Linked DNA regions of Homo sapiens. The protein of the gene in region 4 purifies or fractionates together with the protein of the main gene of each other region. This does not show direct contact. Each region holds a gene or a part of one and is shown on either strand. Other genes may lie near its edges. The genes, in order: MTHFR, LRP6, ITPRIP and RASSF1.

The links.
Region 1: the proteins of RASSF1 (region 4) and MTHFR purify together in Homo sapiens (affinity purification with mass spectrometry; 3 studies listed by BioGRID and IntAct, with this or other methods). This does not show direct contact.
Region 2: the proteins of RASSF1 (region 4) and LRP6 purify together in Homo sapiens (affinity purification with mass spectrometry; 3 studies listed by BioGRID and IntAct, with this or other methods). This does not show direct contact.
Region 3: the proteins of RASSF1 (region 4) and ITPRIP purify together in Homo sapiens (affinity purification with mass spectrometry; 4 studies listed by BioGRID and IntAct, with this or other methods). This does not show direct contact.

The regions. Positions count from the first base shown.
Region 1 is NC_000001.11:11,802,965-11,810,422, reverse strand, and holds the start of MTHFR (methylenetetrahydrofolate reductase (NADPH)), read left to right. Parts: upstream 1-4,458; 5' UTR 4,459-4,535; exon of another isoform or gene 4,536-5,076; intron 5,077-6,885; exon of another isoform or gene 6,886-6,908; coding exon of another isoform or gene 6,909-7,018; intron 7,019-7,293; coding exon of another isoform or gene 7,294-7,306; coding exon 7,307-7,458. Other genes in the region: CLCN6 (H(+)/Cl(-) exchange transporter 6), read right to left, coding at 3,233-3,292, 4,074-4,160. UniProt on the Homo sapiens protein: Catalyzes the conversion of 5,10-methylenetetrahydrofolate to 5-methyltetrahydrofolate, a cosubstrate for homocysteine remethylation to methionine. Represents a key regulatory connection between the folate and methionine cycles.
Region 2 is NC_000012.12:12,159,026-12,166,048, forward strand, and holds part of LRP6 (low-density lipoprotein receptor-related protein 6 isoform b precursor), read right to left. Parts: intron 6,271-7,023; coding exon 6,054-6,270; intron 5,538-6,053; coding exon 5,248-5,537; intron 3,395-5,247; coding exon 3,168-3,394; intron 940-3,167; coding exon 755-939; intron 131-754; coding exon 1-130. UniProt on the Homo sapiens protein: Component of the Wnt-Fzd-LRP5-LRP6 complex that triggers beta-catenin signaling through inducing aggregation of receptor-ligand complexes into ribosome-sized signalosomes.
Region 3 is NC_000010.11:104,328,445-104,335,467, reverse strand, and holds part of ITPRIP (inositol 1,4,5-trisphosphate receptor-interacting protein precursor), read left to right. Parts: intron 1-1,562; exon of another isoform or gene 1,563-1,841; intron 1,842-1,969; exon of another isoform or gene 1,970-2,130; intron 2,131-6,475; exon of another isoform or gene 6,476-6,603; intron 6,604-7,023. UniProt on the Homo sapiens protein: Enhances Ca(2+)-mediated inhibition of inositol 1,4,5-triphosphate receptor (ITPR) Ca(2+) release.
Region 4 is NC_000003.12:50,330,815-50,337,837, forward strand, and holds part of RASSF1 (ras association domain-containing protein 1), read right to left. Parts: exon of another isoform or gene 6,697-7,023; intron 6,637-6,696; exon of another isoform or gene 6,506-6,636; coding exon of another isoform or gene 6,359-6,505; intron 6,318-6,358; exon of another isoform or gene 5,946-6,317; intron 1,341-5,945; coding exon 1,236-1,340; intron 1,043-1,235; coding exon 745-1,042; intron 636-744; coding exon 520-635; intron 1-519. UniProt on the Homo sapiens protein: Potential tumor suppressor. Required for death receptor-dependent apoptosis. Mediates activation of STK3/MST2 and STK4/MST1 during Fas-induced apoptosis by preventing their dephosphorylation.

The DNA.
Region 1 (7,458 bases), on a different chromosome or scaffold from region 4:
TTTAATTCTAAGTCTTACGTTCTGAGTGTGCCTCTTTCTAATTCAAAGGTACAATATAAATAGACTGTGTGACCTGCATGAAAACATTCCTGTTTGCAATGGCACATCTCACAGAAAGTTACCATTTTTCAAACCACCTATAATGAGAATGGATGTCAAAATGGGATTCTAACATTTTGTAAGACCCTAAATTTATCAAATAAAGAGTCAAATATGTGCAATGAACTCTTCCTGAGACAGGAAGAAGGGGCACTTTTTAGAAAGATATTCAACAGAAGGGTTTTCTAGTTGACTGACTATCAAGGTAGAGAAAACCCTATAACTCCATTCATTAAAATATGACTATTAATACCTTACTAAATATCCTTCTACATCCTTACCCACGTTTTTATACACATGCTTTTAACACGTGTTTTAAATAACAAAAATGAGATTCCACTAAATCAACTATTTTAACCTGTCCCACTCACTCCCCTCTTTATTATACTTTTTGTGTCAAGTTGATTTATTTATTGAATAAATAAAATCCAGACTTTTCTGTTTAAGTGCCTGAATTTGTTCTTACACAAAGCAAGTGCTCTCAAGAAGCTCATTCTTGAAGATGGTTGAGAAATATCAATGACCAATATCAAAAGAACATTAACCCATGAAATGTACATGAATATGGCCACGCGTGGTGGCTCACGCTTGTAATCCCAGTACTTTGGGAGGCTGAGGTGGGTGGATCACCTGAGGTCAGGAGTTCAAGACCAGCCTGACCAACATGGTGAAACCCCATCTCTACTAAAAATACAAAACTTAGCCAGGCATGGTGGTGTATGCATGTAGTCCCAGCTACTTGGGAGGCTGAGGTAGGAGAACAGCTTGAACTCAGAGGCGGGGGTGGAGGTCGCAGTGATCCAAGACCGTACCACTGCATTCCAGCCTGGGCGACAGAGTGAGACTCTGTCTCAAACAATGACAAGAACAACAAAAATTTACATGAATATGCATATCAGCTGAAGGCAAGCACATTACAAATGTAAGTACAATTTAGTAGAAGGGGTGAGGGAGCCTGGGTGTCAATGGGGAAGCCTTGGTGAGCTCCTAGAAGTAGGATGAAGGCTGTGAGACAGTCTCAGTCCTGGTGATACAGTCAGGATGATGTAACAGGGTTCAGTGAGGGAGTGCAAGGTGACAGAACAATATGGAGTATCTTATACTAATTCCTGCAAACTTCTCAACTATGTACAAGAAAACAAATACTTACGAAACAGAAGAAAATGGCCAGGTATAGTGGCTCATACCTGTAATCCCAGCACTCTGGGAGACCGAAGCAGTATCACCTGAGGTCAGGAGTTCGAGACCAGCCTGGCCAACATGGTGAAACCCTATCTCTACTAAAAATACAAAAATTAGCCGGGCATGGTGGTGGGCGCCTGTAATCCCATCTACTCGGGAGGCTGGGGCAGAAGAACCGCTTGAACCTAGGGTGGGGTGGAGGTTGCAGTGAGCTGAGATCGAGCCATTGCACTCCAACCTGGGCACTAAGAGTGAGACTCCATCTCAAATTTAAAAAAAAGAAAAAAAAAGAAATAGAACAAAACACAGCAGTGGATACAGTGCTTTTTGGTTCATTCAAAGCAGTCCCATCAGAGTAGCATATTAAACTATACAAACGGCTCCAAATGGCAAAATCTAGACAGTAGAAAATCCCAGGTCCTAATTATGTTGTCAAATAACTTACAAAAAAAAAAAAAAGATGAAGGAAGAAGCTACAGATTAAAAGAGATTTAACAGATTTATCAAACAAATAAAAAAGGACTTTTGGAACCTAATTCAAATAAAGTTAAAATACATATGACATTTACAAGAAAACTGGAAAATCTGGACAGTAGATATTTGATATCAAGAAATTCCTAATTTTTTAGATGTGGTAATAGTATTGGGTTATGCTTTTTAAAAGTCCTTATCCATTAGAGATGCATATAGAATTATGGGTGAAATAATATGATGTACAGAATTTCTTTCAAAATAACATGGGAAGGGCGGCCAGGTATGGTAGATCATGACTGTAATCCCAGAACTTTGGGAGGCTGACATGGGAGGATCGCTGGTGTCAAGGAGTTCGAGAACAGCCTGGGCAACATAGGGAGACTGTCTTTACTTTAAAACACACACACACACACACACACACACACACACACACACACACAAACACACACACACATACAATAAAAAATAATAATATGAGAAAGGAGAAGTGGATAACGAAAGCACAGACAAAAGAAGACTGGGCTTGAGCTAAATCACTGTGGAAGCTGTGTGATGAGGACAAGGGGTTTCAACAGATTATTCTGTTTTTGCATATAGTTGAAATCCTTCATAATAAAAGTTAAACAAAAAAGTGCTACAAATCCTAACGCTGACACTAAATTCTACAGCATGAAGAATTTATGGAAGAGTGAGACTCTGTCAAAAAAAAGAAAAGGTTGTGGAAAATTACCTAATGATACAAAAAGTATAATAAAGGGGGTGAGTGGGACAGGTTAAAATAGATGATTTAGTGGAATCTCATTTTTGTTACTTAAAAAAAGCATGTATCATGTATATAAAAGCATGGGTAAGGATGTAGAAAGATACTTAGTAAGGTGTTAACAGTCATCTTTTAATGAATGGAGTTATAGGCTTTTCTCTACCTTCTTTATTACGTTTAAGAATTTAATGATAAAAAGTCACGCATGTTGTTTCACCCCAGCAGTGTTGGCTTTACTAAAAACACATACTCTAAGAATCCCATACATGAAAGGTGGAACTTAATCAAGAACATGTCAGAGAGAAGCTGCTTGAGCAAGAAAATATCTGAAAAGCAAGCTCTCCTAGAAGAGAAGCAAGGCCTCCTTAACAGTTTATAAGCACACACCTGTTAGGGGCACATACTGCCTGCCAGTGCCTTTCACTCTAAGTCTCTCTGTAAGCTGTAAAAGCAAACAGTTTAATGGCAAATACATACTCTATCCAGGTTAAGGTGCCACAGATTTATAAACGTGTAAAAACACCAGACCTTGTTTTGGGGTTAAGGTGAGAAAAGGGCTTGCTAAACAGTCTCTTTCCTAGAAGGAAGTTCTCTTACCCACTCACTCCCTGGGACAGAAGGTCAAAGAGCATCTCTGGTTGGAATCATAATGCTTCGGCCTGAAGTGACCAGGCCACTCACTACTTTAGTTGCCCAAGCAGTATCAAAGGAGCTCACCTCATAGTCTTTCCTTGGAAGAATCTCATCCTCCTCCTCCTGTGTTTCTCCAAGGATGGTCTAGAAAAACAGATCCGCAGAGGGAGCCTTTTTTAGTGGTTAGGAGTGGAAGGAGGCAGAAGTATTTACTGAAATCAGTGGCTAGCTTCTAAATCATCTGGAGCCATTATCAAATAGGAACCAGCCCTCAAAAAAAACCTTTCAGGGGTGAGGGACCATGTGGGTGAGGATCTACAGCCATCAGCTGAGCTCTTCATTTCCACTGATAGTCTCCAAATAACCACCCTCCTCTTCAGGACACCTCAAAGATGTCCAACGCCAGCTGAAAAGGGGGGTAAAAATGCAGGTTCCATTTGACAGTGTGACGTATCTGAAATCAGAAAGGACTTGTCAACTCTGGGAACACAACTCAAGTTTTCCCAGGATGCTTTGCAGGGGGAAGCTGGACTGTCAGTGACCCAGAAAGGGTGAGGGATAGAGTGAGAAAGGACTGGAGAAGCTAAAACAGCAGCATGATAAGCACAAAGTCCTGTGAGGAAGCTCATTCTGAAAACGCTTGTTTCATTCCAAACTCTTTTCAGATGGAAATAAAAGGAAACATGGGTGGGATTTACTGGAGCTGGCCTGGATTCTCCCTCAGATTCCAGGAGGGGTTATGAGAAAAGACCCCAGACTTAGGCACGTGAAGCAGGGTAGACGCTTCGAGAGCCCTGGCTGCGGTCCCCAGGCCCCACCCGCTGCCACCTGCGGGCCCAGATTGGCCCGGCCCCACCCCCGGCAACGCCTCTCTCAGTCCCTTAGCAACCGCCCCCTCCCCAGGCCGACTCCGCCGGCTTCTTACCAGCTCCTCGGGGGTGCGGGTCTCACGCTCACCGCAGCAGCAGCACCACCTGCAGCAGCAGCACAGAGACCCCCTGCACCCCGCCATCTTCCTCCTTTACTGCCACTCTGGACCCCTCTACCAACCCCCTCCCAGCCAGGATCTGCGCCTCACGTGACTGGCCCCGGGACGGTCACGTGGCCCTCTCGAGCTCTGGGACTGAGACCAGGAGTGGCTGCAGACGGGTGGGGCGAGGACTCGCGTCACATGACGATAAAGGCACGGCCTCCAACGAGACCTGTGGGCACGGCCATGTTGGGGGCGGGGCTTCCGGTCACCCGCGCCGGTGGTTTCCGCCCTGTAGGCCCGCCTCTCCAGCAACCTGACACCTGCGCCGCGCCCCTTCACTGCGTTCCCCGCCCCTGCAGCGGCCACAGTGGTGCGGCCGGCGGCCGAGCGTTCTGAGTCACCCGGGACTGGAGGGTGAGTGACGGCGAGGCCGGGGTCGCCGGGAGGGAGATCCTGGAGCCGGCAAACAACCTCCCGGGGGCAAGGACGTGCTTGTGGGCGGGGAGCGCTGGAGGCCGGCCTGCCTCTCTTCTTGGGGGGGGCTGCCGCCTCCCTTGCGCACCCTTCGCGGGATTAGTGTAACTCCCAATGGCTACCACTTCCAGCGACCGCCAACCCTCAAGCGAAGACTGACTTTGGCTCCCTGCCTGGACGGAGGGGCCCCTGAGCCAGGGGTGACGATCCCGCCCCTCTGACCGGCCCAGGCCCGTGTCCTCGCCCCCATCGGTGACTCAGTGACCTGGTGACTGGATTCTCGGCCACCTGGGCGCCGAGACGGCTTCCGGCTCCTGCCTTTTAAACCTGCCTCCCCGGCGATCACCTGGAGAAGAGCGCTGGGCCCGGGGCACTGCGGTCCCTGGCGCCCACTGCGTCCCGCTGCGCACGGGGGTCCGCCGGGACCTTTCTGGGAGTCGTAGGCTTAGTATCCCAGTGCTTGGCGCAGACTAGTTGTTCAGTAAGTGGCAGAGGCTTATTTTGAGAGAGTGGCAGCACCTGGCCCTTTGGCGCTCAGTGAATGTTGGCTATCACCGTGTGCCAAACTCTGGGGATACCCCAGGCAGGACACCGGTCCTGTCTCAGGGAACTGGGGAAAGAGAAAGGAGACAGGCCTTTTCACCCACAGTTACAACCCAGGGTGCTATGGGAGTCCAGCTGATAACGGATAAATCGTGGGAGTTGGCTTACAAATATGGCACATGCGTGGCATATACTAGGAATGCAATAAGTCTTTGAAAATCAGAGGGTTTACAGGTGGTTCAGCTTCCTCCTACTCTAGGTTCTGTTCCAGCAAGCAATTAACGAGGTGCGCCCTTAAACGCTGGAGGAAAGCCAACTGGCTGCTCTTGCTGTTACTCCTCCCCCCCGCCCCCGTTCCTCACTCCCCACAGCCATCCCCACTGAGAATCTGGAGTTTGAGGTCAGAATGAAAGAGAGCAGCCCTAGAGGGAGAAAGCTTTGGCCCAGGGTTCTTAGTCTGGAATCAACTCCTTGTCTTTGGATGTATCCCCGTGTAGTCTGTGCACCTGTGTGTGTATTTCAGGGGAAGGGAGCAGTGCATTTAATCAGATTGTCAAAAGAGTCTAAGACCCCAAATGGTTAGGTACACAGGGTTAGTGGTGGACAGTCTGAAAGAAATGAACCTCACCTGGGCTTTCCTCTGTTGTGCCATGTCACCACACACCCATTCACTACTGTGTGTTTGCCCATTGCTGTGCAAGTGTTTTGTTTGTTTTTAAGTGTTTGTCTTATTTTCTTAACCAGACTGCCAGATGACCCTATGCCCTCTGTTGGCCTGTCTGTGCCCTGGTGGCTCTGATTACTTGTTTCTGTTTTTTGTTTTTGTTTTTTTTTTTGAGATGGAGTTTTGCTTTTGTCGCCCAGGCTGGAGTGCTATGGCACAATCTTGGTTCACTGCAACCTCTGCCTTCCGGGTTCAAGCGATTCTCCTGCCTCAGCCTCCAGAGTAGCTGGGATTACAGGCGCCCGCCACCAAACCTGGCTAATTTTTATATTTTTAGTAGAGTCGGGATTTCACCATGTTGGCCAGGCTGGTCTCAAACTCCTGGCCTCAGGTGATCCACCCACCTCGGCCTCCCAAAGTGCTGGGATTACAGGTGTGTTTTTTGTTTTTTTAAGAGATGGAGTCTCGCTATGTTGCCCAGGCTGGCCTTGAACTCCTGGGCTCAGGCAATCCTTCTGCCTCAGCCTTCCCAGTAGCTGGGTCACTGTGATGATTTGAATTGAATTCTGTGATGTGTAAGAAGAGCAGCCTGCAAGGCAAGCACAGATGGGGCAGCTTTTGTTCTGAGAAATTCGTGCCCTTACTGAACTTGGGTCTGGCTATTTTTGGAACATGGCCAGCATCAAGTTCTAACCCACAACACGGTCTTTTTGGAGTAGCATGAATTCAGGAGAAATCTGGCTGCATAGTCAAGCCCTCACCCCTTCCATCCTGTGCACGAACTGTTTCAAGTAACAGATGTTCCAGGCAGAGCCAGCCAGAGTGAGCTGTTCCTTCTCTGGAGGGTGATCTGGTATCCCTGAACGCCTGTTGGCCTCATCTCCACCAACCCCTGCAGTCTCTGCCCCTGAGTCCCCCTCCTTCCATCCGCCTCCCCTTACTAGAGCCTCAGCCCTCCCTCCTCGCCTGGAAGCCTTGCCCCCGCCCCCTTGTGCTGGCTGGAGCTCAAGCCTCTTCCTTTGTCGCAGCTCCGCCCAGTTGAACACACCCGCTGGGGAAGGTGCCTCTGTTCCCTCCCCACGCACTCTGGGCCTGAGCTGACAGAGATGGACCATCGAAAAGCCAGGGTCCTCCCAGCTGGGCACTACTGCCCCTCGCTAGGAATATGGGCCTCGCAGGTCGGCAGCGTGAGGTCCTCTGTGCCACCTTCCATCAGGTAGCTGTCACCGAGGAGCATGTTGCAGTGCCGGGTGGGGGCTGCCTTGCATGCAAGGAGCCTGGCAGCAGCGGAGGGCAAGGCTTTGAGTGAGGCGGCCCGGACAGCCATAGCTGAGGAGCATGGAGCCACTGGGAGGGGGCAGTGTCACCTTTTTTGGCCTTCTTCCTGTGTGGAAATACAGCGCCTCCGGCTTGAACCTGCCACTCAGGTGTCTTGATGTGTCGGGGGTGTGGCTGCCTGCCCCCTGATGCTCCCTGCCCCACCCTGTGCAGTAGGAACCCAGCCATGGTGAACGAAGCCAGAGGAAACAGCAGCCTCAACCCCTGCTTGGAGGGCAGTGCCAGCAGTGGCAGTGAGAGCTCCAAAGATAGTTCGAGATGTTCCACCCCGGGCCTGGACCCCGAGCGGCATGAGAGACTCCGGGAGAAGATGAGGCG
Region 2 (7,023 bases), on a different chromosome or scaffold from region 4:
TTTTGGCCACTGGTTTTGTTGGCACGCTCAATGCTGCGTCGGCTCCAGTCCGTCCAGTAGATATAATCTTGGTACTGAGTTAAGCCAAAAGGATGAGGCAAGTCATCTGCTATAACTTCACGGTTGAGCCCTATTTTCAGAAAGGCAGTAGACAGGGGAGAAGCAGAGTGATGAAATATGTGAGAATACAAGTGTCTTGCTGGCAAAAAGAAAAAAAAAAGCCCTAACATATAAAACATTACATTGTAAGCAATTTAAAATAGAAAAATTCATTTAAAAGCAATTCTAAAACGAGACCAATTCTCTGAAATCAATCTATCTTCTGACCCCATGCTTCAAACTTATATTCCTGCTACAAATCACTCAGTTTCCTAAAATTCTTGCAAATGGTCTACTTTAAATGTGGTTTTATTTTCTCTATATAAGGGTCTACAGTTCACTTTTTCTTCTTGAACTATAGAAGGAAAAGATGGAAATATATATATTTTACTGGTACAAAAGTCATTTCAGGAGTATCTAGGGAGTTATAAATTTCATTACAAGTCCAATAATAATGAAACTTTCACATAATAAAAAGATGAATCCAAGTACCTGGATCACTATTAATAACAAACAGGATACAATTCCAGAACAGAAGAAGAATGGACACATTCATATGAAGTTGTATTAAAAGTATCTAACCAATGATAAATAGCAGCCACTGATATTTGCATGGAAAGAATATACTGTTTGAGTAAAAAGTAGTAAAGCTTACCAAGCATATTTGAAGATTCTATTAAGTTGGTGTCCAGGTCTGTCCAATAAAGCCTCCTTTTAGCATAATCAATAGTTAGGCCGTTTGCCCGCCCCACATTTGGAACTAAGGTAGTACGTTCACTTCCATCCATTGCAGCTCTGTCTATCTTAGGTTTTCCACCCCATTCAGTCCAATACATAAATCTAAATTCAAAATAATAAATATTTAACATTTCAATTTTTTATTATCTGGGGGAAAGAGTCATATTCATGCAAAGTAACTAAATAAATTTAAAGAAAACATACAGCAAATCAAGGAAATGGGTTAAACAAAATCACGGCTACAATGCTTTCAATTATTTTGGCACCCTAAACTAAATATTTTTTTCCATATCCCAAAAAGGAAGTGAGTCAGCTTTCCTTAGTCTTTCCAATACATTTGTTCCATCCAAACCTAGGAATTGGAAATAAACCAACAGTTTATTGCAGTACTGGCATTTGTAAAATTAACATTCAAGAAAACAGCAAAGGTTTAAAGCTCTGGTCTCAGAATCTGGTTCACTTCTGAGTAAAATATTTTTATATACTTTTGAATATTAACTAATTTGAGTTTTTAATATGCTGAACTTACTTTTTGACTTGTGTAATCAACTCTTCCTCAAAATAAGTTGCAGAAGTACATGAAAGGTAATTATAAATACTAAGCCTTTAACTGAAGTCAAAAGCAAAGCTTGAAAATGTATTTGGTCATATGGTCCAAGGGAGCATACTATATGGTAAGAACAACGACTCACCCCTTGATGTGTCCACTGGGCAATGAACACTACACTACGCTACAACAATCTCTGTGAAATTTTAGAATAATTACTTTGCTGTTATTTTCCATTTTTGAGTTTTGCACTTTAATCTTACAGTAATCCTACAGTATAGGCTTTTTATAGATGAAGAGCCCAAAACACTACAAGAAATGTGAACAACTTATCTAATGTCTTCAAGCCAGTTAGATGACAGAGCTAGAACTAGAACCTAATCCTTGGCCAAATGCCCTTTCAAGTAAACTAGTGAGGTGCTAGTTTTTGAGACTCTTGAATACTGGAACTAAAAAAGCACATCACATGCCAGCTCTCACGAAATACCTGAGGACATATATTCACTCATCAGCCTGTCAGCTGATAGCTGACTTGGTAGCAATGTATGAACATGCTTTTCTGAAAACTGAAGGTGTCCTGCCTTTATATGCATTTGCACTTGTCATTTGACAGGCATGTGCACACCACAAGAGCCAAAGAGAAACAACTGTGAGAGAAATTTCATACTTGCCAGCAGCAACCAATTAGTCCCAACTATTAAATTTATCTGTCTGGCAGCTAATGTTTAGAGCAAAGATCACCACAATATGTCAGTGCTGACTAGATGAATTACTAGCTAATCATGGAATCAATGTCACTTCAGGGAAATTATTTTAAGTAGCAAATACAGTAAACATATTTATATGTTCACACTGTTTACTTCTTTTTTTTTTTCCAAGATGGAGTCTTGCTCTGTTGCCCAGGGTGGAGTGCAGTGGCACGATCTCGGCTCACTGCAACCTCCACCTCCCAGATTCAAACAATTTTCCTGCTTTAGCCTCCAGAGTAGCTGGGACTACAGACACATGCCACCATGCCTGGCTAATTTTTTTTTATCTTTAGTAGTTACGGGGTTTCACCATGTTGGCCAGGCTGGTCTCGAACTCCTGACCTTGTGATCTGCCCACGCCTCGGCCTCCCAAAGTTGCTGGGATTACAAGCGTGAGCCACCACGCCCGGCCTGTTGACTTCTTTTATAAGTGGAATTTTTCTTTAGATTTCAGATTTCTTAGCTGCCGGCTTTAAAAAATTTGCTGACTCTTGTAAAAAGGAACACTCGCCCTTGAAAAACATCATGTTGTGAACAGTTTATTCTATCTTGTAATAACAAAGCTACTGCCAGTTTATAATAATGATCAAACCAAACTATCCATTTTGAATTAATAAATACTCCAAAATAAAGCTTTTTAAATGTAGTTTTTTCTTAGCTCACAACATTGTTTCGGTGGGTTTACTTCAATAGGCTTGGAATCTAGTATAACTGGGAAGGAGTGCAAGCAACTACAGATGGATAATACCTCTTGGTATATATACTTAACATATCAGTATACTCATCAGTAACATTTATTAACCCATTCCCCTCTTTCTTCACCTAAAGTTAATTACGACAAGAGTAAAATTAGCTAATAATTATTCATTCAAATCAGCAAAATATCAATAGTGTTTTTAAAAGTTCATCTATCATTTAGTTCTCAGATTCCTAATACGTATTATTTAAAACATTAAGAATATCATCTGTAACTATGCCATGTTCCCCGAAATGTACACTGCAGTTGCAAAGAATGCACATGTAAAGCTGTTTACCCTTCGGCAGGGTCCAACGCGAGAGCTCTGGGACTATCTAGGTCTTTCCACACCAAAACTTGTCGGTGCTGCCCATCCAACTTTGACACCTCAATTCGATTCGTTCCTGTGTCTGCCCAGTACAAGTTCTTCCCAAGCCAGTCTACTGCCATGCCTTCTGGATAATCTAAGCCGAATTCTACCACATGTTCCAGTGCACTGCCATTCATAAAGGCTCTGCTGATGGTCTGCAAAAGAACATTAACAACTAAGTCATATGGCATAAGTCTAAACCCTATCCAGAAAGAAGGTTTGGTTTGGTTTTTGTCAGGGGCAAGAGGATCCAGAAGTGCCAAGAGGCATACTATTTCCTATTAAAATTCACATAACTTGCAAGCACAGAAAAATTTGATGTCAATCTCTAATAAATGCAACTTCAAGTTTTACTGCCAATTCAGGGGAGAAATTTTAAAACTCTAATGCACCAAAAATTTATTCTACTAACAGCAGAATGACTTTACTTTTAAAATTTATCAGTAATCAAGTGGAAAAGCTGTGACCACAATGCTACAGATCTTAATTAGTGGTCAATTTTCTAAAGGTGCTTAAGATTATGGCAAGTCATCATGCCTACCATATAAATGAATGTAACCATTATACTACCATTATAGCACTGAGTCCCATAACACTTTTAAAAATCATAATTCAAACTAATAATAGATACATCTTATCAAGTATTATCCTAAGTACGTTTTGTCCGTAGATTTTGTCACTTAATACAACAGTCCTGCAAGTATGGCATCACCCCTATTTTATGTTTTTGAGACAGAGTCTCACTCTGTCACCCAGGCTGGAGTGCAGTGGCATGATCTCGGCTCACTGCAACTTCTGCCTCCCAGGTTCAAGTGATTCTCGTGCCTCAGTTTCCCGAGTAGCTGGGATTACAGGTATGCGCCACCATGACCAGCTAATTTTTGTATTTTTAGTAGAGACGGGGTTTTGTCATGTTGGCCAGGCTGTTCTCAAACTCGTGACCTCAGGTGATCCATGTGCCTCAGCCTCCCAAAGTGCTGGGATTTACAGGCCTGAGTCACCGCACCCAGCCACCCCCCATTTTCAAGATGAGGAAATTTAGAACATCACCCAATGCAAACCAAAATTTATTTATTTCATTTATTCACTTAATAAATTTAACTGAACACCATTAGAATCCAACTCTGACTCCAACACCCCATGTTTTCGCATATTACAAAAAAGTTTACATGAGTTATCTGAAACAAGCCCAAAACAATCTGGAAGAAGAAAAGATTATTCTTCAGATTTATAGGTTGGGAGCTTCCTCTCTGGCTATCCTGGTATTCTTTTCAGTAACTATTCTAGGAAGAAGAAAATAAAGAATAACTCATTGTTGGCCTTTTCCGCCTCAGTCAGGCCCTAAAATTTTGTTTAAAGTAAATCACGAATTTTTTTTTAAAGTAAATCAACAGCCATTTTACGTGAAGCACACATTTCCTTACTCAGCTAATTGCAGAAAATGTCATTCATCATTTTCAAATGGAAGAAAGTAGAGGAAGACTATGGCTTGCAGATTTAAAACACTCTGGCAAAGTATCTGTATTAAAAAGCATCTAATAAAATACTGAATGGGCCTTTCCCTTCACTTAAAAACTTAAGGGTTTTGGCTGGGCGCGGTGGCTCACGCCTGTAATCCCAGCACTTTGGGAGGACGAAGCGGGCGGATCACGAGGTCAAGAGTTCGAGCGGCCTGGCCAACATGGTGAAACCCCGTCACTACTAAAAATACAAAAATTAGCTGGGCGTCGTGGCACGCACCTGTAGTCCTAGCTGCTCGGGAGGCTGAAGCAGGAGAATCGCTTGAACCTGGGAGGCAGGGGTTGCAGTGAGCCGAGACTGCACCACTGCACTCCAGCCTGGGTGACAGAGCAAGACACCGTTTAAAAAAAAAAAAAAAAACTTGAGGGTTTTTGTTGAACTCTGCCTGTCAAACAATGAGGGAGGTGGGTCACAGCATGAAGATTCAGAAATTCTAGAAGTTCTCCCTTTTAGTCCCTAGCTTTAATATTCCAATTCTTTTGCTAACCTTGAGTGATATATCAGTCCAATAAATTCGGTTGTCTGTCACATCAAAATCCAAAGCAGAAGCTTCTTTGACACCAGTGAGTGGAATAGCCACATTATTATTGTTTGTTTCCAGAGAAATTCGTCTGATATCTGCTCTCCGTGAAAACAAAAGGAAAGCCTCTGGGACAATGCAGGTCTTCATGTCACTGATGAGTTCAAAGCCAATAGGGCAAGCACAGCGAAGGCCCTGAGGTCTATAGAGGCAGAGATGGCTACATCCCCCGTTTTCCTCAGCACAGGGGTTGGAACCTAAAAGATTAATTATAAAAGGGGCACAGAAGGACACACACATTGATACATTCAACATATTTTCACTTTTAAATTACTTAAGCGTTTGGTTCACAAATGCCTATGATTATGTCTTGCTCCCAATCTCAAGTTTCAATTCTAATATCACAAACAAGTAATATGCAGATTAATAGGGAGTAAAAGCATGGTGAAGTATTTTCCTTTAATACCACAGTAAGCTTTAAAGTAAGGTATATTATTCATACTATCAGACTGAATTCTTTTGATGAAGGTGTGCCTGTGCATGTGTATTCAGCCCTTCAATTCAAACTGGGTAGCTAGAGTAGTAAGTCAACGTTTAAAAGGTCCCTTCTCAGTAAAAAAAAAAAAAAAAAAAAAAAAAAAAAAAAAAAAGGCGGGGGGGCAGTAAAGAAGGTTTCAAAATTGCCTCAAAACATCAATAATTTACACTGCTGACTATCTCCATCTTTTTTCATTCCTGGTTCCCATTTCTAAGAAAGCTTTGGAGTTACTCACCAATCACTCGATGAACATTTGTAGCCTTTAGGCCCATGAGGTCAGGCAGCTGATCTATGATCACTTCCCTCTCTGCACTTCGTTTATGAACTCTTTCAATGCTACGCCTCTGCCAGTCAGTCCAGTAAACATAGTCACCCAACAAAGTAAATCCAAATATGTGAGGAATTTTGTCTTCCACTAGTACTCGTCTCCCAGTGCCATCAGTATTCATAACCTTCAGGTTTAAATTCAAAAGAGAAGGGGATGAATTATGCATTTATTCTTCAGCTAAAAATAACAAATCCAACTGCCTGTTGTATAAAAATCCAAGAGTCATCTTGGTATTCCTATTACAATGCTTTCTCAAAATTACATGATGATTTTATAAAAATGATTTCAAATTTTCCATATAAGCCTCTATTTGACCACTTTTCCCCCCAATCTCATATTACTCTTCCTTCTAAAAATTCTGGCAACTTTAGATTATGCAACTCTTCTATTAAACAATTGTGGCAAAATTAAAAATACAGTATCATCACCTTAAGTTTGCACATTTGTTTTCAAATTATAATGTACCTTCATATACATTATTTTATCATATATTTTGTTTTATAACATCTTTTATTTTATCTTGAGAGCTTTGCCTATGGAAACTGAGATTCATGTAAGGTCACAGAGCTTGTAAACACAGTTGATGTCTTTTTCAGGACTTTTTCCACTTAGCATGCTTTTTATTTTGTTGTTGTTGTCAGTAACAACAAAAAACAGATAAAAGGGATCTCAATAAATCTCTCATTCCTCTGAGATTATAATCACAAAAGTATCGGGATTATATGACACCCTCTCTGCATCTAAGTTTCAAGAAACTAGGATGTACCTTCTCTTTCCAACTACCTAATAGTAACATTATTAAATTCACTCTGGCATTCATACTGTATTCACAGTGCATTCACCATGCACTATTCAGTGTTGACTTACTTGGGATACC
Region 3 (7,023 bases), on a different chromosome or scaffold from region 4:
TGTGGCTCAGAGGGAAACGGCGGTGGCTGCACGCAGGGTCCTGACCTAGGCAGAGAGCGAGTGGAAGGAGGTGAGACAACTGTCCTGACCTTCCAAACCCCTAATCCCCATCTGTGGTCTCTTGCTTCCTTGTTGAAGTCCCATTCACCCACAAATGCCCTTCTCAAGTTCGTCCAAGAACCCTTCCTGAAACTCCATTTCACAGTTCCATATACATGATCTCTTAGTTTCCACACCGTACAGCTGAGCGCTTAATTAGCTGGAACCGAGCATTTCACTATGTACTGTCGATAGGCACTTTAAACAAAATAGGCTTCTCATCAGTGAGGAAGTCAAGATGCCTCCTGGGAGGGGCCAGCTGGTGCCCAGCAGATTGCTCAGAGGGTGGTGTTTACCTGGATCACGTCACCTGTCCCAGGGCATGGCTCTTAGCTGTGCCCGCTCAGAAACCCAATTTCCATAATTTTCAGAGTGGTTTGGACTCAAGCTACTGATTCACCCTGAGAAAGCTCCCAGAAGAGGGTGTACGAATCAGAATGCTGGTTTATTAATTTGCAAGGAGACTTCGCAAACATCACACAGACTGAATGTCGTCTCTTCCCTGCGTCCTAGACAAGCCATATGGGAAACCAAAGACCAGAAGGTGGACTGCGCTTATCAAAGCTGGAGTCAGAACCAGGCAGGAGCAGCATGGGGTGAGGGTGGGGGACAGTGATGTCCAATAGTGCAGGGCTTTGTCTACCTCTGCGGCCCTCTCACCAGCAGAAAGATAGCTGCCAGGTAGACTGGATACTCAGGTCAGCCTGGCTATGGGCATCTCCTTGGCCAGTGCCTCAAGGGCAGTATTTCCCTGAGAAATCCTGGTAGCATTTCTCCCTTTCCTCTCTCATAATGTAGTAATTTTTTATTTTATTTACCTATTTGTTTAGTGCTTTGCAAGCATTAGCTCCCAGAGACATAGATTTGCATTTGCGTAAATTCGATAACTACTGTACAATCTCAGAGTTGTAGGGCCAGGCCATGAGAGTAAGTGCTATATGCAAATCAAGAGGATGATCCGGTAACCTGGATGGATCAATAGAAAGCCAAGCATAGAGCAAAGACACGTGGTCCCCAATCAGCATGGAGGCTGGGCCAAGGCTGGCCAGTTGTTGCATCCCCTGCGTAGGCCAGGGGGTGAAGCATTCCTAAAGCAGTGCCTGCTTCGGCTGCCTCAGGCAGCCTGCCCTGCTCAGCTGGCCTCTTTAGATTTAAAGGGCTCTTTCTGGTCTCTGTCCAGGCCCTTCATGGCTCATCTTTAATGAGCCACATCTCCAGGTGCCCAGAGCCAAGGCGGTGTGACTGCACGGGCTTTGAAGTGGGGCAGACTTGAGTTGAGTCCTGGCTCCACCACTCGGTGGTTGGGCGTTCTCAGTAGTTGGGCAGGTGCCTTGATTCTTCAAGTCTCGGTAACATCATCAGTAAAATGGGGATGACCCTCAGGGCTGTGGGGAGGGTTGACCCAGACGATGCACAGAAGGCTCTGAGCACCGTGCCTGGCGCAGACTGGAAACCTGGCCAGTGTGCGCTCTTCAGGACAGCAGAGGTCGGTTGGAGGTCTGCATTCTCTGCCGACTTGGGCCCCAACTTCCCCATCAGGTCACTGCTCCCTCCTCTGAGGTCTGGACAAAGGACAAGGCTGTAGGGACCTAGACTGTCCTAGACGGGGAGGACATCTATCCTCAGTGGTCTTTCCAGCAGTTTGTTTGGAGCTGCTCATCCTGATCTTTTGGCTGACTCTGGCAGAGGGAAAGTCAGATTTGAGGCCTGAGCTCTAACAGGCATCCAGAGAGGAAGGAAGGGTAAGGAGCTCTTCTGGGCGAGGAAAGGGGTCATTTGGGAGTGCCCCAGAGGCCTGTAGACCCCTCCTCAACAGTTTAGGACCTGTGACGTTTCCCCACAGAGAGCACATCCCCCCTCTATCTGTTAGGCCCACCCCGTGACATCAGTGAAACGGAAGCACCCTGCAGGTGACATCACTGTTGCTCAGGGCAACGCCTCCACCCTAAGGCGGACGGGGAGGTGAAAAATCGGCCTCAAGTGTGAGACGCATGTTGAAGGGAAGGGACATAGAAGGTGTAACGTTCACAGGTGTGTTTCTCAGAGGCTGGGGAGAGGATGGGCCCAGTTAGCGGCAGGGTGAATAGAAGAGGGAGGTGCTGCAGTCTCAGATCTGGGCTGTGTCAGTTGGTGGTGGGTCTTTAGGCCTTGGGTCAGAGAGCGCAGTGCTGACAGCTGCAGTCTCCTTCAGTTCTCTGAACGGGACTCCTTAGGGGTCCTCCTGCAGCCTGGATCTGTAAGGAGGGTTAGGGGAAGGGCAGGCTGGAGCAGTGATGGGGCCATCAGAAAAGTGACTTTCCATTCTTCAGCCTCCCCACAAAAGAGAGTGAGAAATAGGATGCTCACATCCTTATTACGGGGGCTTCATTGATCGAGCAGCCATTGTGTATCTGTTATGCATGGCCTGTGCCAGGGATTCAGCGGCCTCGTGGAGCGTTATGATGAAATGCACATGGAGAGGAAGAGTGTATGGAATCCACTGCCCCAAGAGGCAGGACCAACTGGAGATAGGAATCCCGTCTCACAGTTCACCTCACTCAACTTAGCATTCCCTGTGGAATTCTAGATGGGTTAAACTAAATTCATGGAATGCTTTCAGTTGGGTGTGCTTGAGATACACTTGCTAATTTGGGAGTGGAGTCAGAGGGGGCAGCCATGGATGTCCATCTTGTCCCTGGGATGGCACTGTTTACAAGGCTGAGGTCACTCAGCAGTTCTGATGCTCTTAACTTGGTGACCTGTGTTTCCGCCACATCTTATCAGGTGATGCCTGCTGCTTCTCCTAAGCAAGGGCTGCCAAATGTCAGCACAGGAGACGAAAGAGGCAGGAAAGGGAGGACTCCCTGCCCTGAAGAAAGATGAAAAACTAGATGATATAGTAGGTGTCTCTGTAGAGGTTTCAGGAATCGCCTTGTCCTTCCACTTGAAGGCACCTGATTAAAGTTTTTGTTTTGTGCAACTAGGCATAACTTCAGGTGCTTTTCTGATGTCCAGCATTTCGGTGGCTAAAGTCATTGCCCTAATTCTTGTATGCACCTAGCTTTTTCAGGTTTATAAATAAAAATTAGAGTATCATTAATCTGCAGAATCCACCGTTATGGATATGACATTGTTCATATAAGTAGAATGGCCTTATTAAAAAAAAATAGTGGCTTCATTTACTGAGCAAAGCCCCATTCTAGGGGTTTACACATATTTATTTCTCCTCCTCACAATGGCCCTTCAAGGTGGGTGTTATCCTAGTTTTACAGGTGAAAGAACAGACTCAGAGGGACTTGCCCCAAACGGACAACAACAGAGAAGAGATTCGAATTTAGATTTGCTCTCTCCCAGGGCCTTGGACTCTTTCTGCCACCTCAGGCGTCTGTCTGGACACTGTAGCCCAGAACACATACAGATGGCATAAAGAATCCCACAAAGTTTTAAGTGTCAATACTGAGAAAACAGCAAGCAGACCACCAACTCCAGGCCTGAGACTTCTGGTCCCTTCCTGCTGTCTCACTCTGATATTAGCAGACCTAGTGAGCTTTGGAGACTCCTTCTGCCAAGAGATTCTGTGAGTGTGGCCTGAGCTATCTGAGGGTGAAAGGAAGGAAAGGCTTTCCCTTCCAGCACTGTTTGCTTTTCTGTTTAATAGGCACAGTAACAACCAGTTCCTGATAATATTCAGAGCACTTTGCAGTCCTCTGCTGGAAGTCCCTAGGAAAAATACAAAGCCCCGCAATTATCAAATGACTCACTTCCAGGTGCATAACACAGTGGGACACTCACTGCCTGGGAAGAGGGGCTCAGCTTGGAAGCAACCCTGGGCTGCTACTGCTTTCTCTCCCTTCTAGGTCATTTCCCTGAAGCTGATGCAGGAGTCCCCCCAACTCTCGCCCCCTCCTCCTGTATCAAAGCAGCAGGGAAGGTGTTGTCATTATTTTGGCCCTGCCCGCTAGTGCAAAACCATGTGCTCATAACATACTGTTCTCATGGGAGCCGGCTTCAATAGCCTCTTAGCAGCAGCCGGGGGACCCGCCTGAAGTTTACGAACGCGTCCTTTGTTTGCTGAGACTTTGTTCCAAAGTTCCCAAGGAGGCAGGGGTGCAGCATGCCTGGGCTGGAGGGTAGGAGAGCAGGGGCTGCCTGGGTCCTACCCCTGTGTGCTGCCCCAAAATGTCCCTAATGTACCCATGCCGCTTCCTGACATTTCACCCCAACACATGCCTACCTGCCAGTGTCAAGAGAGCCCTCACTCCCTTTTTTGCAGAGAAGGCTTTCCATTCCTTTTATCTCAAATAGCCCAGGCCACACTCACAGAATCTTGGTAGAAGGAGTCTCATAAGTTCATTAGGTTTTACTCCCTGCTTCATGCCCACATTTCATCTAGATTGTCACCTACCCTTCCCTAAACAGTCCGGGTGAGGAAAGTCCATAGGTACATGTCTAATGTTTCACAGATACCAGGTCACTGAGCAGCACAGCTCGTGGCTTCATGGGAAGAGTATAGGCTTGAAAGTCAGATAGGTTTGGATTCAGATCCTGGCTCTATGATGTTGGTGAGTGGCCTCACCTCTGTGCCTCAGTTGCCTTATCTGTAAAATGGAGATAAGTGCCTGCCTCAGAGGTTTGATGTGAGAATGATACATGTAAAGCTTTATTGTGCAATGCTTAAGCCTCAATAAATGGGATGCAGTGGTTGTAATTCATTAAACCCTCCCATGGTGTGTCAGGGCCCTGAGGCTTGTCCAGTTTTTTCCTGAAAGAAGAATTACTTCTCTGCTCCTTCTCTTACTCTGTAATCCTCTGTTTATTTCTACAAGAAGCTTGAGCAAGAAGGGAGGTGTCCACGGCAAGGCAGCTGAGGGTCAGAAAACGTGTCAGGGTTCATTCCTGGGCCATTTTCTAAACGTTGGCAGTGAGTCTGCCTGCAGTTACATGAAGGCCAGTCCAGACCAAACGGGGCTGCAACCGTCTCTGTCTCCAGGGCTACGTCTGGAAGGGATTTTGCTGGAAGGGATTTTCCAAGGCACTTACACTGTTAGCACTTTGTTTTTCTGACTGCAGTGCCCCTCCCAGGAAGAAAGAATGTAGAAGTTACTTTATCCAGAGCTTTCCACTTCACTCCAGGAATTTCAAATTCCTGCTCCTGGGAGTAAAGGCAGTGAGGTTCTTTTCCCAATCCTAACTCCATTCATGTATTCAGCAAGCATTCATTATAGCAACTACCCTCTTCCAAAGCTGGGTACTCAGAACCTAATGGAAGAGCTGTCAGTGTCAATGATGCCAGATTGGAGGGAGTAAGGGAGGGTGCTGCTGACCTTCCTAGGTCTCCAAACTTCCTCCTCTTCCTCTGTGTCAGCCCCTGGGGCCTTTAGAAGAAGACAAGGAGGTGGAGGAGACAACTTAGTCATACTCCCCAGGCTTCTGGAGGAGCTGCAGGGATGTTGTTCACCCACTTCTTCCCAGAGGACTCCTTAACATGCAACCATGACGATTTAACAAATCAAAAAGGAGACATGACCGCAGCACCAGTACCAGTGCCAACAGCAGTATCATTTACCAAGCACTGCCGAGTGACTGTGAGATGGTCCACAAGGCCATAAATTGGACACTATTGCCATAGCAAGTTGTAGAGCCAAGATTCAAACCCAGGCCTTCTGATTCCAGAGTTTGACTCCTTAGCAATGGTTCTCTAAGCCTCTGCAAACTGTTAAGCTCTTCTTAGCTGATGAGCTTTGGGCTGTTTCTTTCTCGGTGACAGTAGGAGTGGAAATGAGCCTGTGTGAACTTGACACTATCAGTGGCTGCTTGCTGCCCACCTCAGTCTGACTGACGCACATATGAGTCATGGGTCCATGCATTCAGCAGGCATTATTTGGACACCTACTGGGTGCCAGCACAGCCTCGGTGGAGCACCCGCATCACACCTTATTGCTCCGTCCCTGTGACTAGAAAATGATGTCATAGTAGGGTTGTTTTGTGCAATCCGTAGAGAGTGTGACTCTGAGTAGTCATAGGTACTTCTGGGAGCAATTTTGCTAACTGTTCCTAGCCTTACCATGTGGGCCCTCTGCTCTCCAGAGAGGAGGAGGACTGGTTTGCTCTGACTAACTGGTGTGGGAGGGCTGGCAGAGGCCCGGCTCTATTGTTCAGCCCAGATCCTTGCAGCAGAGCACAAGCAAAGACGCTCTTAATTTTTTTTACAGCTGGGCTGGCCTCCCCTTTGTCTTTGTGTCTGTTACTGTTCCCCTTTATTGAGATGAAAGGGGTTTTTAGATCTTTGCAGGGAGAGTGTGTGTGTGCGTGCATGTGTGTATGTGTGTGTGTGTGTGTGTGTGTGCATGCGTGCAGGAGGCCCACAGCGCTTCTCTTCCTCTCCCCTCCCCGCTCTCCCCAGCCCAGCTGGGGCCCAGGCTTTGTGTCAGGTACCGCCTAAGCCGCAGGGGGACTCGGGTAGAAGAACAGTCTGGGATTTCTTTCACTGTGTGGGGCCTAGAATCTCAGGAAGCCAGGACGTGGGTAAGAGACCAGTGGGGTGGGGAGGCTGAGGTGGGGAACAAGCCTTTCCGAGGTCGTGGACAAGGCCTTGGGGGGTTCATCCTCCCCCATCTCCTAGAGGCAGAGTGTCTTTCTAAGCTGGGCTCTCTTTGTTCCCATCCAGGGGTCAAACAGAAGGTGGCTGCTGGGTGCTGGCCCTTTATTTAATTCCATCCATCCTAGTTTCTCAGTGAAAGGGGGAAAGTGGAAGGGGGCGGGGAGTGGCCAAGGGAGGGCTTTGTTCCCTCCTTGTTTTCCTTTGTGTTTACTCCCGGTTCTGTTCCAGTCCCTTCCCCTTTCCATTGAGTCAGTGTGTCTGCTATTGTGCAGAGCCTGCGTCTAAGCGTGCAGCCTCCCCTCCCTGTCCCACTGAGAAAGTGTGGTTTTGCCTGAACGTTTGTG
Region 4 (7,023 bases):
TCACACAAGCTAGGACTGGGCTTTCTGATGTCAGGCTCTTGGCTGAATGATCTCTGGTAGGATCCCTGACAGCAGTTTGTATGGAAGATGGGCCCTACAAAACGGTCACCTTACTGAGACAACCAAGTCAGATGTTCCCCAATTACCTGTGGACAGGTCAGGCATATTCTGAGTCTAATTTCACTCCACAGGCCTAATACCTTGGAGCCAGAAAGCTTCCAGGTAAAAAGTCTGAAGGGGGCCTCCTCATGTCATTAGATGGACTCCTGCATCTCCAGAAGATTTTCCACACCAGGAAAGATCAAAGCACCAAGGCAATTCTTCCTGGCTTCTTGGGACAACCCTAGGCTTTGGCATGAGTGGTCTGGAAGCCTTTGCTTTAGTTACAATGCCTATACACTCCTGGAACTGTTTTGCAGGGCTTGTCTTCCAGCACAATTCCTCCTCCAAGCCTTACTGTAGCTACAGCCCATCAGTCCTGTCTAGTGACAACCAAGAAACTAAGAACTATGTACTCACGTTCACCTCCCCAGAGTCATTTTCCTTCAGGACAAAGCTCAGGGCCTTGTCACTGGGCCCTGCCAGGAGCCGCAGCCGCAGGGGCTGCTCATCATCCAACAGCTTCCGCAAGTACACTGTGAAGGGGAAGTAATGATCAGAGACAGGGCCAGCTGCTCAGCCCCTGCATGCTCAGGTGCATGCGTATATACCCTCACATAGGGCAGGGTGGGGTGGGAAGCCCACCTTGGCCGTGACGCTCAGCGCGCTCAAAGAGTGCAAACTTGCGGGGGTCATCCACCACCAAGAACTTTCGCAGCAGGGCCTCAATGACTTCACGTGCCCTTGTGCGTGACAGCACATGCAGGTGCTTGACAGCATCCTTGGGCAGGTAAAAGGAAGTGCGGCGCCTGACACTTGTGCCCCGTCCTGGGCCCCGCCGGGCATCCTGCAAGGAGGGTGGCTTCTTGCTGGAGGGCACAGAGACAGGGCGCACCAGCTTCAGCTGAACCTTGATGAAGCCTGTGTAAGAACCGTCCTTGTTCTAAAGAAATAGAGAAACCAAACCTTGATAATAGGTTCCAGGTGAGATGTCAGTCTACTTGGGGCTAGGCTGGGTATGCACAAATTACTGCTTGCGCCCACCCAAGATAACCTCAGTTGTGACCCTCTGAGTATCAGGCACATAGCTGGGTACCTGCTCCTCCCCACGCCCCCTTCCTGAGCAGTCAACTCACCAAGCTCATGAAGAGGTTGCTGTTGATCTGGGCATTGTACTCCTTGATCTTCTGCTCAATCTCAGCTTGAGAAAGGTCAGGTGTCTCCCACTCCACAGGCTCGTCCTGCAAGATGGGCCAGCATGGACACAGGGCCCTTGAGGAACCCAGGGCTTCTCTGAAAAATGGCCTCTGGGGCAGTCTTTGGAAACTGACTGCCTTTGGCCCCCTGTCCCTGATGTACATATACATAGCTGGTGCCCACCCTGAACCCACCACTGCTCCTGGTTTTGCATGCTCTGGGTGGATAAGGGAAAGACAGAATCATTTGGCTTCTCTCTGCTGCCTGCCTAGGGCCTCAGCACTGAATGTAGCCTTAAGGATACCACAGAAGCAGGGGCAACTGAAGGCACATGGCCAGGGGCCAGGAACAGCTGAGGGACTCTGAAGAGGGACTCTCATTTAAAGTAAAATCAGGCTGGGTGTGGTGGCTCACATCTGCAATCCCAGCATTTTGGGAGGCTAAGGTAGGAGGATCACTTGATCCTCAGGAGTTTGAGACCAGCTTGGGCAACATAGCAAGACCTCATCTCTACTAAAAAAAGAAAAAAAAAAATTAGCCAGGTGTGGTGGTGTGCCTGTAGTCCCAACTGTTCAGGAGGCTGAGGTGGGAGGATCGTTTGAGCCCGGGAGATTGCAGCTACAGTAAGCTATTATCGTGTCACTGCACTCCAGCCTGGGGAACTGAGTGAGACCCTGCTTCAAAACACAAAAAACAAAAACAGGCTGGGCACGTTGGCTCACGCCTGTAATTCTAGCACTTTGGGAGGCCGAGGCGGGTGGATCACCTGAGGTCAGGAGTTTGAGACCAGCCTGACCAACATGGAGAAACCCCGTCTCTACTAAAAATACAAAATTAGCCAGGCGTGGTGGCACATGCCTGTAATCCCAGCTACTTAGGAGGCTGAGGCAGGAGAATTGCTCAAACTCGGGAGGTGGAGGTTGCAGTGAACTGAGATCGTGCCATCGCACTCCAGCCTGGGCAACAAGAGCGAAACTCGGTCTCAAAAAAAAAAAAAATCAGTAAAATCACACCTCAATTGCACATTCTGATCACAGCACCCTAGTTGAGTTGGAGTGAGGGTTTGTCCTGGAGAAGGCAGCCCATTTTTCTCCTCTGCCCCGGCACGGGGCCATGACCCACTGCAGGGTGAGAGGAGTGGAGAGTGGTGCACATCAGTAGTCCAGCCACCAGTGGACAGAGTAGTACTTGGAGCCAGTTCTCCATGTCTCACACATAGTGAGAAAAATCACTGTGACATGATGTTTAACCTTGACCCAAGCTGCATAAAAGGCAGCTTTAGGCCAGGCTCCAATCTGCCAGAGGTACACAGGCAGCTTCCTGGTGGGTTTCTGCACCTGCCTGTGCTGTCTGGAGATTTGGCCCAAAGATTTTTTTTTTTTTTGAGACGAAGCCTCACTCTGTCGCCCAGGCTGTAGTGCAGTGGCTGGATCTTGGCTCACTGCAAGTTCTGCCTCCTGGGTTCAAGCGATTCTCCTGCCTCAGACTCCCGAGTAGCTGGGACTACAGGCGCGTGCCACAACAACACCCGGCTAATTTTTGTATTTTTAGTAGAGATGGGATTTCACCACATTGGCCAGGTTGGTCTTGAACTCCTGACCTCAAGTGATCCGCCTGCCTTCACCTCCCAAAGTGCTGGGATTACAGGCGTGAACCATCGTACCCGACCCAGAGATTTTTAACTCGACCACTCACTCCCCACCTCATCTAGGGACTGGATTCTTGCCGGAAGGGTGGAGTGTGGGACAGGGCAGCCAGGGCTCTGAACCGACTTTCTTCTCCCAGACTCCCTTGGCCCCACTGCATCAGCCTTACTTCCTGTTGACGTCAGATAGGCCCTAGTTAGAATGCGAGTGTCACAGACACAGCTAAGCTCAGCGCTGACCAATACTTTGTCCCAGAAGAATTCCCACAAGGTTTCCTGTAGAATGATCTTGTGCCTAGCCCAGGAGAGCCAGGGTTCTCCCTGACTCCGCCCTGGAGTCCCCTTAAGCACTTAAACCATCTGATGGGGACAAATGGAGAGGACAGATGAGGGAGCAGGGTGGAGCGTTTTAGCAGAATGCTCCTTACCCAGAACCCGCTGCTATTCTGCAGCCAGCAAGGATGTGGGGCTAAGAACTAAGGCCAGGGCCTTACAGGAAAAAGGTAAAGGGGGAGGGGTGGGAATTTAAGCTCATTTTCTTCCCCAAGTATCCAAAGGTCTCCTGGATGGAGAAGAGCACTGGAGTAAAAACCCCAGTACAAACCTTACTGGGGACAGTGGGCAACCTTGTCGGGTTAGTAAAAACAAATGGTGTGGGCCCTGGAAAATGAGGGCTGGAGGCTGTGAATAAAGCAGTGGATGTGTTTGTTCAGTACACCAACGGGAAGAAGTACCCAGATGGGAGGAGTACTAGGGGCAGGAGAAATGCCAGACAGACTCTAGTGCCAGGGCAAGAAGGAAGATCATTTTGTTTGCAGAACAGGGAGGGCACAGGGATGGTGCTAACTTGTTCTTGTGATGGCTCTGAGCTCCTACCTAACAATGAGAAAGCTTGCTCCTTCTTCCCTTCCTGGATGACCCAGGAGCCCTGGGCTGGGATGCAGTGACCTCATTTCCAGCCCCTTCCCTTCTGGTGATGAACCTCCCTATCTTCACTCAGAAAACAGACTTGGATTAGAGGCACTGCACAGCCCTTCCAGGATTCTAAAGGAGGAAGAGTTTCTTTTTCTGTTTCCAAAGCTGCCTGCTGGAAGAGGATTTCAACAGCCATCCCAGTCGGATGCACAGCAGGACCATGGAATTTCCCTTCTGCACCATAGGGACCCACCCTCCACTCTACCACTGTCCATAAAAACTGATGGTTTTTTTTTTGAGACAGAGTCTCGCTCTGTTTTCCAGGCTGGAGTGCAGTGGTGCGATCTTGGCTCATTGCAATCTCTGCCTCCTGGGTTCAAGCAATTCTCTGCTTCAGCCTCCCAAGTAGCTGGGATTACAGGTGCCTGCCACCACAACTGGCTAATTTTTTGTATTTTTAGTCGAGACGGGGTTTCACCATTTTGGCCAGGCTGGTCTTGAACTCCTGACCTCATGATCCACCCACCTCGGCTTTCCAAAGTGCTGGGATTAAAGGTGTGAGCCACTGCACCTGGCCTAAAACTGATGTTTTTTTCTTTTTTTTTAACATATAACTTGGGACTTCTCAGCCTCCTATTCTTTCTTTTTTTTTTTTTTTTTTTTTGAGACAGAGTCTTGCTCTCTCATCCAGGCTGGAATGCAGTGGCCCAGTCTCGACTCACTGCAACCTCTGTCTTCTGGGTTCAAGTGATACTCCTGCCTCAGCCTCCCCAGTAGCTGGGATTACAGGCACACACCACCATGGCCAGATAATTTTTTTGTATTTTCAGTACAGACGGGGTTTTGCTATGTTGGCCTGGCAGGTCTCGAACTCTTGGCCTCAAGTGATCTGCCTGCCTTGGCCTCCCAAAATGCTGAGATTACAGGCATGAGTCACCAAGCCCAGCCTTCTTTCTTTTTTTTGAGACAGAGCCTCACCCTGTCACCCAGGTTGGAGTGCAGTGGCACGATCTTGGCTCACTGCAACCTTTGCCTCCCGGTTGAAGTGATTCAGTCTCCCAAGTAGCTGGGACTACAGTCACACACCACCATGCCCGGCTAATTTTTGTATGTTTAGTAGAGATAGGGTTTCACCATGTTGGCCAGGCTGACCTCGAATTCCTGATTGCAAATGATCCACCTGCCTTGGCCTCCCAAAGCATTGGCATTAGAGGTGTGAGCCACCGTACTTGGCTTCCTTTTCTATTTTTGAGACAGAGTCTCACTCTGTCACTCAGGCTGGAGTGCAGTGGCACGATCTTGGCTCACTGCAACCTCTGCCTCCCAGGTTCAAGTGATCCTTCTGCCTCACCCTCCCAAGTAGCTGGGATTACAGGTGTGCACCTCCGTGGCTAGCCCTCCTTTTCAATTGGTTAGTGTCTTGTGGTTTTCCCACCTTTCCACAGTGGAAAATGGCTCAGGACTGACTGACATGAAGACAAGCCCAGGGGTCTACACTCAACTCAACCCTTGCACCCAAGCTCTGGGCTAAGATTTTGGCGTGCTGAGCACCACCCATTTTGTAAGGAATTTTGTAAAATTTTATCTGAAGCATCACTCACAACTCCACTTTCTTTACTTAAATAAGGATTTCCGCCCCATTTCTGCCAGGCATACTGAGCTTCACAGTCCCTGTTTCTTTTTCCTGGTGCCTAGGCCTGGTTCTCTGAGCCTGGTGGTCACACCAATGGCATCTGGCACACAGTTCTCCGATAATGGGGATACCTAGGAGGTTCCGAGACACCTTACAGTCCTGGGTTAGTAACCTGGATCTCTTTTTCCACCTCTTTAGGCATTTTATAATCTAGCTTTCCCCCTTCCTGTGGGTAAAGTGCTCCTGAATGCTTATGGTCCAAAACAAGACTTCTTTCCTATCTATTCCCAAATCTTTCTCCAGATCCACCCTAGAGGAAGGGAACAGAATCTTCCACATTCCAGCAGCTGGTGACAGGCCAGAACAGGGAAGAGGTGAGGGCTCAGCTGGCTCCATACAGGAGTGCAGATGGAGGAGCAGGATCTCTCTCTGCCTCTCAAGTTTTCCTAAACATACTTCTCAATTCCTGGCGAGGACTCTTCCCTCTCCACATCCTCCCCTAGTCTCCCCAAGGAGGGAGCAGGAGCATTCGAACGCGGAAATCGAGGTGCTAGTCCAAACTGCTCGGTCGGCTTTAGTCATAGCTGGATAATGCCCGGCTCAGGTCTACCACAAGCCATACAGCTGCTTTTTCCGTGTTCAACCTGTCTGTGACAGAAACCAAGGGGGCCCCGGCACCCAGCATCTAGGCGGTGGAATCGGGGTCTTACGCACGGTTCCGCGGGCAGGTCCCCGGCCAGGACCCGCGGGGAGCCACGTAGCCAGGAGGGTGGGGCTGCCCACCGACCCAGGACGCGGCAACGGACCGGGGAGGGCGGAGCTCCAGCGACCGCTTCCCCTCCCGCCCGCCGGCACCCCCTGGCTCCCACCTGGTCCCGGCGCGGCCTGCGAGCTAGCGAGGTTCGCGCGGTGAAGTACTGCTCGAGCTCCGAGTCCGAGTCCTCTTGGCTGCAGTAGCCACTGCTCGTCGTGCTGCTCCAGGTCATTTCGAAAGAAGGCGCCTCCGCCTCGCCCATAGCCGTACCCGCCCGTCCCCCAGTCCTGCGCGTCCGTAGCCGCCAACCACCGCCCCGGTCGCGTGCGTGCGTGTACGCGTGTCAGTGTGCGCGTGCGCCCGGGCCAGAGCCGCGCCGCAACCGTTAAGACTGAAACGTAGATCGCCGGGATCTAGCTCTTGTCTCATTGGGGCAGGAACGCCGGGGCGGGGACACGCACGCTTCGCCCCCAGGAATGACCTCATCGCTCCGGAGCTCCACTCACAGACCCCACCTACCACAGGGAACGGGGGCGGGTGCCAGCGTCCGGGCAAGCGCACAAGAGTGGCCTCTGGCCGGAGGCGAGGGCGGGAAGGTGCGGGAAGTGCGCGTGCGCGGAGCCTGGGTCAGCCTGGGCCCGGGTCCGCTTGCAGCGGGTGGAGTACTTGCGGAGCCGGCAATCCAGGCTCCCCTCCCAGCCCCCGCGCAGAATTAGCCTCTCTGTGCCGCCGGGAAATCGGCAATTAGAACGCTCCTTGCGCGCGGCACCCAGGCAGCCC